Linked DNA regions of Homo sapiens. The main gene of each other region encodes a partner of the protein of the gene in region 2 in a complex. Each region holds a gene or a part of one and is shown on either strand. Other genes may lie near its edges.

The links. Proteins that work in one complex are often made in the same cells at the same time.
Region 1: ACAD9 (region 2) and TMEM126B share a complex: the UniProt entries of both Homo sapiens proteins name them as parts of the mitochondrial complex.

Annotation. Positions count from the first base shown.
Region 1 is NC_000011.10:85,631,593-85,634,314, reverse strand, and holds part of TMEM126B (complex I assembly factor TMEM126B, mitochondrial), read right to left. Parts: intron 2,629-2,722; coding exon 2,507-2,628; intron 230-2,506; coding exon 36-229; coding exon of another isoform or gene 10-35; exon of another isoform or gene 1-9. UniProt on the Homo sapiens protein: As part of the MCIA complex, involved in the assembly of the mitochondrial complex I. Participates in constructing the membrane arm of complex I.
Region 2 is NC_000003.12:128,886,120-128,889,619, forward strand, and holds part of ACAD9 (complex I assembly factor ACAD9, mitochondrial), read left to right. Parts: intron 1-3,500. UniProt on the Homo sapiens protein: As part of the MCIA complex, primarily participates in the assembly of the mitochondrial complex I and therefore plays a role in oxidative phosphorylation.

The DNA of each region.
Region 1 (2,722 bases), on a different chromosome or scaffold from region 2:
ATAACTACGTTATACATTAGTGAATTTAAATTCACCTGAATACAAAGCATCAATTACAAAAAGCTTGTCAGTAACAACAGTAGACAAAAATGGAAGTGTAGCCAATGATGCATATGTCTTCAAAGCATCATGTTTAACCTTGAAGCAGCGTCTGAACAGGAAGTTTGAGAATATTCCAGAGAAACCAGCTGTTGTTCCAAATGTCGCCATTTGATATATATTTTGTGTCCTAATAGAAAAAAAGAAAAATTCAGTTCACTATACCATTGAACTTAATGGATACAGCCTCTCCTGAAAAGTTGTTATTGCATATCAATATCAAATATTTCTTGAGCACTTACTATATGTGAAAAGTATTTTCTAAGTGCTTAAGATAGGACAGTAAACAAAGCAAAAGAAAAAAAGAAATTTCCCACCCCTCATAGAACTTGTATTCTAATGAGAGGACATGATTCTCTTTCTAAGAATATTTACAGTAATTCTAAAATAGAGCTCTTTTAAATAATTTTGGCCACAAATAAATATAAATATGTTCCAATGCAGCCAAATTTTATGAGCTACCCAAATCCAAGAATACCTTTCCTGCAACTAAAAGATTTACTTTGCTTAAGTTCATCTAAAAAAAAGCTGTTTACATTTGGTTAGGCCTTCTATTTCTTCATTAGTCCCAGATACATTTAAAATAATTTGTCCTGAACAGACACTTCTCAAAAGAAGACATTTATGCAGCCAAAAAACACATGAAAAAATGCTCACCATCACTGGCCATCAGAGAAATGCAAATCAAAACCACAATGAGATACCATCTCACATGAATTAGAATGGCAATCATTAAAAAGTCAGGAAACAACAGGTGCTGGAGAGGATGTGGAGAAATAGGAACACTTTTACACTGTTGGTGGGACTGTAAACTAGTTCAACCATTGTGGAAGTCAGTGTCACGATTCCTCAGGGATCTAGAACTAGAAATACCATTTGACCCAGCCATCCCATTACTGGGTATATACCCAAAGGACTATAAATCATGCTGCTATAAAGACACATGCACACGTATGTTTATTGTGGCACTATTCACAATAGCAAAGACTTGGAACCAACCCAAATGTCCAGCAATGATAGACTGGATTAAGAAAATGTGGCACATATACACCATGGAATACTATGCAGCCATAAAAAATGATGAGTTCATGTCCTTTGTAGGGACATGGATGAAGTTGGAAATCATCATTCTCAGTAAACTATTGCAAGAACAAAAAACCAAACACCGCATATTCTCACTCATAGGTGGGAAATGAACAATGAGAACACATGGACACAGGAAGGGGAACATCACACTCTGGGGACTGTTGTGGGGTGGGAGGAGAGGGGAGGGATAGCTTTAGGAGATCTACCTAATGCTAAATGATGAGTTAATGGGTGCAGCACACCAGCATGGCACATGTATACATATGTAACTAACCTGCACATTGTGCACATGTACCCTAAAACTTAAAGTATAATAATAATAAAATAAAAAAAAATAAAAGGGAATGAGGGAACTTTTTGGGGATGTTGGAAGTATTCCAAATTTTAATTGTGGTGATGGTTACATAACTGTATAAATTTGCTAAAACTCATATAACTGTACACTTTAAATGGATGAATGTCAAGATATATAAATTATACTTCAATAAAGCCATAAAACAGAAAATGAAATAAAATAAAATAAAATAAAATAATTTGTCCAAGATTTATAAAACTTCATCCAAAAAAATCTGATTTAGTTTTCTTATTAAGACCCATATGTAAATCCAGGAAATAACATCAACTGTCCTTTGATTTTTTTCTTGAACTTTGTTCATTTAAAAGTCAAAATGGCCAGTCTGGCCAACATGGTTAAACCATCTCTACTAAAAATACAAAAATTAGCTGGTTGTGGTGGTACACGCCTGTAATCCCAGCTACTTGGGAGGCTGAGGCAGGAGAATCACTTGAACCTGGGAGCTGGAGATTGCAGTGAGCCGAGATTGTGCCACTGCACTCCAGCCTGGGTGACAGAGTGAGACTCTTATCTCAAAAAAAAAAGTCAATATGTTAATGTGAGACTATATTTATACCATGAAATCTGTATTCCCTTTTGCTGTACTAAGTACTGTGGCTGAGATAATCAATCCTAAACTGATTATAATTACTCACCAATTAAATATAAGTACCCCCCTCAATGGTTTTCTCCTAATTACTTTTAATTAAAATACATTTACTGCACAAAAGTTTTAGCAATACTTTTGGATACTTTTTAAGAAACAAAAGAAATTATCCACAATCCGAAATATTCCAACAAACCACCATTTTCATCTGTTCTTGTTTCCCCCATTCTTTTTTTTAAAGATGTGTTCTTCATAGCCAACTCAAAGAATAGGATCTTAGATAACAGAAAAGGTAAGAAAGAATAGGATCTTAGAAACAATGGCAATACAAAAGACTTGCAAATAAAATGACTGATTTTCAGCCTGGGCATTTCTCTTACATTTCTTTTCTAAGATAGTCAAAATTTTTTTCTATGATTTCTATGACCATTGGTCTTCTGAGTTTTGCATCTTCTAGAGAAGGACTGGGCTGACCATGCATAGATGCTGCCATCTTGAAAACCTGGAAAAAAAAATTCCAGAGCCATAATAGCTAATGATATTCATATTACATAAAACCTTACAGAATTCTACAGATTCAGATTTGAAAACATTTA
Region 2 (3,500 bases):
CGAGACAGAGTCTCACTCTGTCACCCAGGCTGGAGTGCAGTGGTGCAATCTCGACTCACTGCAACCTCTACCTCCCAGGTTCAAGTGATTCTCCTGCCTCAGCCTCCCAAGTATCTGGGACTGCAGGCATGCACCACCACGCCCGGGTAATTTTTGTATTTTTAGTAGAGATGGGGTTTCACTATGTTGGCCAGGTTGGTCTTGAACTCCTGACCTCATGATCTGCCTTCCTCAGCCTCCCCAAGTGCTGGGATTACAGGCGTGAGCCACCGCGCCAGCTAATGAAAAATATTTTGAAAAATAATCAGGCCAGGCGCGGTGGCTCACACCTGTAATCCCAGCACTTACGGAGACTGAGGTGGGTGGATCACCTGAGGTCGGGAGTTCGATACCAGCCTGACCAACATGGAGAAACCTCATCTCTACTAAAAATACAAAATTAGCTGGGCGTGGTGGTACATGCCTGTAATCCCAGCTACTCAGGAGGCTGAGGCAGGAGAATCGCTGGAACCTGGGAGGCGGAGGTTGCGGTGAGCCGAGATCGCGCCACTGCACTCCAGCATGGGCAATAAGAGTGAAACTCTGTCTCAAAAAGAAAAAAAAAAGAAAAGTAAGTTAAAAAAAAAAAAAGAAAAAAATTGATGGAAAGAGTGACATTGGTTGAAAGTTATGCAAGTCCTTTTAATGTTTGGCTTATTAGAAGACAGCTGGATTCTCATACCTGTTTGTGCACGTAACCTCTGGAAAAGTCCACTGTGCAGTCTTTTTTTTTTTTTAACTGTCTTTTTTTATAATCTTCAGACATGCTTTTTGTTTGTTTGTTTCTGAGACAGTCTTGCTCTTGCTTTGTCACCCAGGCTGGAGTGCAGTGGTACGACCTCAGCTCACTGCAACCTCTGCAGTTGAAGTGATTCTCATGCCTCAGCTTCCTGAGTAGCTGGAATTATAGCACGCACCGCCACGCCTGGCTAATTTTTGTATTTTCAGTAGAGATGGGGTTTCACCATGTTGGCCAGGCTGGTCTTGAACTCCTGACCTCAAATGATCTGCCTGTAATCCAAAGTGCTGGGATTACAGGTGTCAGCCACCGCACCTGTCCTGACACGTGCATTTAAAGCAAGAAACACACACTTCCAGGACATAGGGCTCTGTCAGCAATAACTGTCATCTTTGTATTTGCAGAGATGTAAATATATAAGAAACCGGCTGGGCACGGTGGCTCACACTGGTAATCTTAGCACTGTGGAAGACTGAGGGGGGCAGATTGCTTGAGTCCCAGAGTTTGAGACCAGCCTAGGCAATGGAGCGAAACCCTGTCTCTACTAAAAATTTAAAATATTAGCCGGGCATGGTGGTGCGCGCCCATAGTCCCAGCTACTTGGGAGTCTGAGGTGGGAGAAGGTACCCAAGCCTGGGAAGTCAAGGCTGTAGTCAGCTGTGTTCATGCCATTGAGCTCCAGCCTGGGCGACAGGAGTGAGACCCTGTCTCAAAAAAAAATAAAAATAAAAATAAAAAAATAAATAAATATATATATATATATATATATATGCAAGAAACCACTGCAAACCAAACCCACTCCCTCTCACAGGAACAAAGGTCTCTTGGAATAAATAGCAAATGCTGGAATAAAAACTATGTTCATTCAGCTGCCATGATGTGAATTCAAAAAGGAAGTTAAATCCAAGGGCAAAGCAGAGAAAAGAACATACAAAAATACACCTATTTCATGTACATTCAAAGAGGAGGCTAATCACTGTGGACAAAGGGCCCTCTGGAATGACAGCTGTAGGCAGCCAGCAGTGCCACGGAAATAGAGGCACTGTCATCTGGAGACACAGAAAAATCACATCCTCCCACAACTGGCCTCTATGAAAACCAACCAGGACAGACAACCCTTCCCCAAAAGTAATGGCCAAGAATAAAAGCACAAATATTGCTGGAAATCCAAGTAGCCTGTTTTACTGCTTTGAGTGACTTATATGCAAACCTAAGACTTTTTTCTGAATCCTTGATCAAGATTTATTCATATAAAGGCCGTACATAAATTCTGGGAACATGGTACTTTGGACTATATATTGGACTCTGAGCCAAAACGTTAAATACACTACACTGCGCCCCACTGTACAGTCTTCAGAGAATTAGAATTTAAAAGCAAGTAACATCTTAAGTAGTTTTAGGCCAGGTATGGTGGCTCATGCCTGCAATCCCAGCGCTTTGGGAGGCCGACGTGGGTGGATCACTTGAGGTCAGGAGTTTGAGACCAGCCTGGCCAACATAGTGAAACCCTGTCTCTACTAAAAATATAAAAATTAACCAGGTGTGTTGGTGCCCACCTGTAATCCCAGCTACTGGGGAGGCCGAGGCAGGAGAATCACTGGAACCCGGGAGGTGGAGGTTGTATTGAGCTGGGATGGCGCCACTGCACTTCAGCCTGGGTGACAGAGTGAGACTCCATCTCAAAAAAAAATAAAAACTAGTTTTGATCCTGTGGGACCCCCTAGAAGCAGCTCAGGTCCCCCAGAACCTCTTTGAGAAGTGCCAAATTGTCAGCTGTCATTACATTGCTTGGTTTTTGTTTGTTTCTTATTTCACACCTGGTGATCACAAATTATATGTTGCTAGTTTTAAAAGTTGCTTATTTATATATAAACATAATTTATAATTTAGAAATACTTATTTCTGCTTTTTTTCCTAGTGTTTATCTTCCTATTTGTATCTTTTTTTAGCTCCCATAGTCTCTTGTTCTTTTATTTAAACTTTTCCTATGTGGTTTGTCAGGTTTTTTTTTTTTTCAGGTTTAATTAAGGAATAATTGATTTACAATAAATTGCACACACTGTCATGTGACACATAATGACATTCAAGTCAATGACAGACCATATATACAGTGGTGATCCCATAAGATCATCATACCATATTTCTACTGTATCTTTTCTATGTTTAGCTGTGTTCATATACACAAATACTTACCATTGTGTTACAGTTGCCTACAGTGTTCAGCACAGTAATATGCTGTACAGCTTTTTTGTTTTGTTTTGTTTTCCTTAAAAAAAAAAAAACAAAAAATATTTAACAGTGAGATGGGGTTTCACTGTGTTGCCCAGGCTGGTTTCCAACTCCTGGGCTCAAGTGATCCTCCCGCCTCAGCCTTCCAAAGTGCTGGGATTATAGGCATGAGACACCACGCCCGGCCTACTGTACAGGTTTGCAGCCTAGGAGCAATAAGCCATACCATATAGCCTAGGTGTGTAGTAGGCTCTGCCACCTAGGTTGTGTAAGTCCATTCTGATGTTCATACAGGGAGAGAATCACCTGACGCATGACTGTATTTAGAGAGTACCCCTCAGGAGCCATCAGTGCAACAGAGGAAGTGAACGTACTCATTACCCGTCAAAGTTTCCTTGTGCCTCTTTTATTTCCCCCCTGTTTCCAGGCAACTGCTGATCTGTTTTCTCTCACTATAGATTAGTTCGTATTTTTTGGAATTATATTATGTGTG